2 linked regions of the Homo sapiens genome follow. The protein of the gene in region 1 purifies or fractionates together with the protein of each later gene. This does not show direct contact. Each region holds a gene or a part of one and is shown on either strand. Other genes may lie near its edges.

Region 1 (3,140 bases):
ATCATAAACTAGACATTATACTAGTCACTCCTATATACATTCATTGATGAACTCATCTAGTTACCATAATTTTGAAAAAGAAATGTTAAAAATATAAGCAAGCTACAGGATTTTCCCCAGGACTTCTGACTCTACTTCTAGTTCTCCAACAGATCACAGTTACTTCTGTGGTGTAAATACATCAATACGAAAGAAAACTTTTATTTCAAAACGCCAATAGTAAATAAGATAAAATTTATAGAGCTCTTCTTAGAATATCATGAGATTATTTGCGATTGCAATAATTTCTGTTTCCTCTTTATAATATTAGGTGCAGTAATCAATATGAAATAGGGGAAAGTACAAGGAAAAATTTTACCTGGAACAAAATTTTTATCAATAGGTTATCACTAAGTATAAATTATGGCATATTATTGTTTTCAAAAGCTCTTTGTAATAAAATAATATCCTATGTGGATGCCAAGATTTATAATAAATATTAATAATTGTACCTGTAAGTGTCATCATTCATTTTTAAAAATGAGATAACATTTATGGTTTTAGACCTAAACAATATATATTAAATCAAGTGGATATTATAAGTAACAGTGATAAGATAAAGTTTAAAATATAGAATTTTTACCAAAGATTGATTTACCCAATTTGGAGTATTTCTTGCAGTCTTTGATTTCATCTCTAGTGACTGAACAGTTGGTTCAAGTTGTTTTGCTTCAACTTCTTTCTTATATTGTTTCTCTTTCCTTTCTAATTCTTCTCTATTTTTTTTGTACAGCATATTAACATTTGTTTTTTCTTCATTTTCTTGTTTTAAGGTGCATCTGCAGATAAAGACATTTGTCTTAAAATTCATTTTGTTAAAAAATAAGGAGTTCATCCTGTTACCTACCTCTGCAGATGTTGTTTATTATCCTAATAAAATTTCTATGTTCTGGATTATTTTTCCTTTGCAGTTCTCAGATATTTAATTTCTCACTTCAACATCTTCAAATGAATGCATATACTTGAAAAGTAGTAAGGAAAGAATATTCTGCTAAAGTTTTTGTTACTAGTCACTCTAATATATATTATAAAAAAGGATACCAGAGATAATTCAGTAAAGTTACAGGTTCAAAATTACCTTTTTAAATCACACAGTCATAATTACTCCCTAATTAGAAAAGATCATTTACAATCAACTAAATTTTTAAAGTTACTATTTATTGACAAGCGTATAAGTTCACTAGAAATAAATTTTCATCTTTATGAAATATTGCAGGTGTTTCTCCAAATGATTTACAGAGTGAGATGACACCTTCAGATGTCTCTCACACAAACTATATCTGCAGATGACTGTCATCCAAAACTAGGCTAAAAAGTCTAACATCTGTTTCCCCACACTTTTTATATTTCTTTCTTAATACTTTCAATTCACCTTATTACATATATTTTATATATTCATTAACCTATTGTTCATTATGTGTAATATATAATTAATGCATGTTAATTATATATTAATAAGTGTGTGTATGTTTACACCAGTTATGTTTTCCTGTGAAATCTAGTCCCAGAAGTGGAGTTGTTGAGTTAAAGGGATGTCAGGCTATTTGAAATTTTGATACACAGCACTAAGTTACCCTTCAGAAATAATTTACTAATTTCCTATACCAACAGTGTATGAGAATGCCTTTTTCCTCACATTTGCCAACACTAATAATTACTTTTTAAATATCAGCATGACTTTACAAAATATATCTTATTTTATGTTAATTTGCTTTTTTCTGATTACCAGGCAGGGCTAAATACCCCTGGTAAAAATATAAAACTTGTTAATCATAAGGAATATTAGTCCAATTTTCAATTAGTTTATAGCACAATGACAATTATCTCCTGTGAAATACTGCTATAGGCGGCCAGGCACGGTGGCTCACTCCTGTAAACCCAGCACTTTGGGAGGCCGAGGTGGGCAGAACACGTGAAGTCAGGAGTTCGAGACGAGCTTGGCTAACATGGTGAAATCCTATTTTTACTAAAAATACAAAAAATTAGCCGGGCATGGTGGCACATGCCTGTAATCCCAGCTACTAGGGAGACTGAGTCAGAAGAATCGCTTGAACCCAGGAGGCAGAGGTTGCAGTGAGCTGAGATCACACCATTGAACTCCAGCTTGGGCAACAAGAGAGAAACTCCATCTCAAAAAAACAAAAACAAACAAAAAAAACCCAAAACCAAACAAACAAAAAAAAAAACACTGCTATAGGCTTACCTATCATGCTCTTCCTTCAGCTTCTTGGGAAATTGCTGAGGATACGTTTTCCCAATCTTTCTTTGTTGGGTTAATCTGCCAGCAGCAGCAGAAGATGTACTATCACATATATTTTCTGAAAGTTGTATTTTTTCACTTTTGTTTGTATTATTTCCTTCTTTGACCTTTAATAAAAGATGAATAATAATTGTTATTATTTTATTCAATAAAAAGAACTTTTTCCCTGATTTTTTTTACTTGATTCAGGTTAACTATCACCACTTTAATGATAAAAGTATTTTGTGCTTACTTTAATTTTATCATTATACATAATTATTATAATTATAAGATACTCTTATTTTATCATCGAAATTTTTGTCAAATCTGCTCATTTCTGTTTGAGGGAATAGAAGAATTTTCCAAAATTTCAAAAAGGGCTCTTCTCCATTTTGTGCTTTTATTCCCATCCACTCTTTGCTATCTGGTATAAATTTTTATGCTATCTGGCTGGCAGAAACAGAGAAATAAAAAGACACAGGCATAATATATGTCTTCTGTCTTTACTACCTGGATTTTACATGAAATAGCCAGATTAAGAGGATGTGACCTTGTAGGCCTTCGGGAACAGTAAAGAAGTTTTCCCTTTTCTGTACTGAGCTACTCTTTTCCCCACTGCCTTTTATCTCTCTTTTTTTTTTTTTGAATCCTGTGATATCAAAAAAGTAAAGGTTCTCTTTGAATTATGGGAACCAACGTTTGCCACAACAAAAGAAGCAGAGTGAAACTGCTGAGTTTCTAGTGCAGAATTCTGGAAAATGAGATGCTTCCCAGATTTCACATTCAATTACCACAAAAGTTTATAGGTGGAAAACATATGGTACAGTTACCTACTTTAACCCCATTATCTACTGATAATGGG
Region 2 (3,658 bases), on another chromosome or scaffold:
TCTTTTTTAAAGGGCTAAAAATACATAGTACACCATGAAATAATCAAATACTAACCTCTTTCATTTTTTCCAGTTCATTCTGTAAAGCTTGCTTTGCAATTTCAACTTCTATGAGCTGTTGCCTCAGTTTCTCATTTTCATCTTCTGTTGTTGTTCTCTTTTCTTCCACATTTTCTAATTCATGGTGAAGTCTCACAGATACATCCTTTGCAACCTGAATTAAGGTGTTTGTAACAATAAAATATAATTAATGACAATATAATAAGGGCTAAAATTGTATTCCTATTGAAAGCATTAAAACCCAATATTTATATGGTGTTTACCATGTGCCAGGCATTATTCCACAAAGTATACATATAAGCCATTCACATATATCAATCGTTTAACCCTACAAAAATCCCATGGGATAGGTACTATTATTACTTCTATTTTGTAGATGAGGAAACTGAGTCTCAGAGAGGTCAAGGTCACACAGCTAATGAGTAGACACTGCTGGGCTAAGAGGCCTGGCAATCTGGCTCTAAATTTTGTTCCCTTAACTTCTGCACTACTCTGTGGTAAAAAATGTTCTATTGCATTTTATCACATGTAGAGAAATTTCACAAATTTCCTTTACTTCAGCAAAACTATGAGGTAGATGTTTCCATTATAATCTATGTTAAAGAATGAAAAATTGAAGTTTTTACAAGTAGTGGGTTGGGCTTGAATTTCAATCTTATAGCTTGAATTCCAGTTGCTTAATCTTAGGAAAGTTTTAGTCCTTGAGATTATTATTTTTTGAATGACTGTGCATTTTTGCCTCATATTTTGAGATTATCCTGGAAATTCTAGGGTTTGGAAGAAAAGTGGAGCAGACTGGTGTAGAGGCTTAGGACACAGGTTGTGATTTTGGACTGAGTGGAGAGTCAGCCTGGCACCTATTAGCTGTTTTCCAGGCCTGGGCACTTAACCTCTGTAAAAGGTGTAGCTTCTGCACCTATAAAATGGTGCCTTAATAATCCCTACATTGTAGGATTTTTTTTCCCTTGAGAATTAAATGAAATAATAATGTATGTAACAGTGTTTGCCACAGTGCTTAGTACATACTAAGCACTCGACAAAAGTTAAGAAAAAAAGTAATACGTCTTTCATAAAATGTTTACACATAGCTTTCTTTAAAACAAAGATTACACGTGATCTTTAAATCCCAATGAAGTTAATGCAATGAACGTATACTTATTTGGTTGTGCAAGGAGATTAAGTTAATGTCTAGTTTGCATAGTCAATGAATCTGCCTACAGTCAAACTGAACTGGAGACCACACCTGTCTAGAAAATGCACTTCAAGGTTGAGATTTTTCCACTGGAAGAAATTCTGAAGGAACAATTGCACTTTAAAAAAATGAGATTATTTCATTTACCTCACACCAAACAGGCTGCAAGTTGGTTATCTGTTTTTTTTTTCCCCCTCAGGGAGTCACCTAAGTGGCAAGTGCAGAAAGGAAGAAGTCCTGGAAGAAGGAAGTGGAGTGGACACTTGCTGAAAGAAATCTTAACTCTAGTATCTTCCCAGTGCAGTTCCTATTTTGGGTTTCAACTCCCCCAGAGGAGTCCTTTTAGTGCAGCTCCTGACTGCCCGATTCCACCGGACTTCTCTCAGTAGACAGACTGAAGGGCAGATCAAAGGCTAGAGCCTGCGCTCTGCCACGCCCTTGCTTCTGCCCAGAAGGGAGCCTTCTTCTCATCACCTCTTGAAGAGCCACCTTTGCTCCCAGGAGAGCACACTTAGCTCGTTTGCTGCCAGGCCCTCCACACACTCTGCACTCTTTAGAGCCACCTGCCAGTTCTCTCCCTTCTGAGACCCTAGTATTTTGTGGTTAGCGCTACGAAACTGTGTCCCTAAGGCTCCTTGCCAGTCGCCACTGAAGACTTCTCAGCCTAAAGAGCCCTTGGCCAAAGTCCCCACCCACCGCCCCTGCCGCGCGCCATTGAGCCCCCGCGCCGCAGACCTTGAGGTCCTGCTCCAGGCTGCGCAACAGCTCCCCGTCGATTTCCCCGGTCTGGGCGTAGCGGAGCCTTTTGCGCTCGGCTTTGCGGAGGCGGTACTGCAGGATCCGGCAGTTTTTGTTGGCTCTCTCCAACTCGTGGCGCATTTCCTGCAGTTGACAGGCATCCTCCTCGAAGAAAGTGTCCCTCATCTCGTCCATCTCGGTTCTCAGCTCATCGATCTCGTTCTGAGGCGGTGACAGGCCGCGTGTCAAAATCAAACTCGCTTCCAGCCCTTCCGACACACACCGTACACACCCCATTCCAATTCCAAATTCTCAGCTTTAATTGCCCTCTCTCTCCACGAGACAGGAGTGACAAGGAGCTGAGTACAGAAGAGGAAACTGGGGGAAAAAGGCCCACTTTAGGCCCTCTCTCGTTCTCTTACTCTACCTCTCTCCAGGAAGAAGTGTGACAAACCATTATAATTAGAGAAACGGAGGCCCAGATTTGAATTTAAATGAAAACCTCGCGTTACTGAGAGCAGATTCAAATTCCGGCAAGGCCTAGGAAACCCCCTCCCTCCTTTCTTGTTCTCCTCCCTCTTCAAGGCTCCCTAACAGGTTAGCAGCCTCTGATCCCTGCCGGTACACGCCCTAATCCTCCCAGGCCCACTCTTCCCATCCCCCAGCCGGGTCCCCCCACCCTCCTCACCTTGAGAGTCTCGTTTTCCTCTCGCAGCTTCTCCATCTCCTCTTGCATTTCTTCCTGCTCTTGGAGCTGCTGCGGGTGCGGCTGCGACGAAGGGGGCGCTGCCGCCTGCATGCCCCCGCCGCTCGCGCTGCCCTCTGCGCTCTGCTGGGGGCCCTCCGCCGCCGCCGCCATTGGGGAGGCGGAGGCGACGGCCAGGGTCTCGCAAACGGCAGGGGGGCCAGACACCGGGGAGCTGCGGCTACTGCTGCCGCCGCCGTTCTTAGCGTGCATCTGAGCCGCGGCCGCCGCCGCTGCCGCCCGCTCCTTCTTGAGATGGAACTGGATGAGCTCAGACTGCAGACATCCTTCTTTCCAGTAGCTCCCTCCACCACCGCTGCCGCCCCCCGCAACGCCGCTTCCGGAGTTTCTGCTGCCGGTTCCTGGGGTTTTGCCCGCAGAAGAGGAGGATGGAGAAGGGGAGGCCCCCTCCCCGCCGCTGCCGCCCCTCTGCTGAGCGCGTACGCCTTTCCCTCGCCAGCCCCTGGGCGGCGGCGGCTGCGGAGCGCCCCCCTCCCTTTCCCCGGAGCCGCCGCCGGCTCCTCCTCCTTCCCCGCCCCCTCCTCCCCCTTCTCCGAGCGGAGGGGGTTCCCCGAGTTTCGAGGGCACGGACTCTAGCTCCCGAGGCGGCTCCTCGGGCGGTCCGGGCCTCCTGCCGCCCAAAGCGGCCAGGGTCGCGGCGGGGGCCGCTTCAGCACCAGCCACAGGCTGGACAGCTCCCGGAGCGGCCCCTTTGGGCGCCAGGGGCGTCGCCTTCTCGGCCCCACCTCCGCCTCCTCGGATGCTGGCGGGCGGCCCCGTGCGGCTCCCGGTCTTGTTACCCTGCTGTTGCTGCTGCTGCAGCTGCTGCTGCCGAACAGAATTGAGTTTAGTGCCGGCCCCCACTGGGGACCGGGTGGCCGCGATTGTCTGTCGCAGCGAACTGTCCCTCGGTCTAGCGGGTG

What was found. The genes of interacting proteins can lie anywhere in the genome.
Region 2: the proteins of ANKRD20A1 (region 1) and MTCL3 purify together in Homo sapiens (affinity purification with mass spectrometry; one large-scale study listed by BioGRID and IntAct). This does not show direct contact.

What each region holds. Positions count from the first base shown.
Region 1 is NC_000009.12:67,896,825-67,899,964, reverse strand, and holds part of ANKRD20A1 (ankyrin repeat domain-containing protein 20A1), read right to left. Parts: intron 2,407-3,140; coding exon 2,243-2,406; intron 819-2,242; coding exon 638-818; intron 1-637.
Region 2 is NC_000006.12:127,512,836-127,516,493, forward strand, and holds part of MTCL3 (microtubule cross-linking factor 3 precursor), read right to left. Parts: coding exon 2,679-3,658; intron 2,466-2,678; exon of another isoform or gene 2,213-2,465; coding exon 1,988-2,212; exon of another isoform or gene 1,452-1,987; intron 215-1,451; coding exon 56-214; intron 1-55.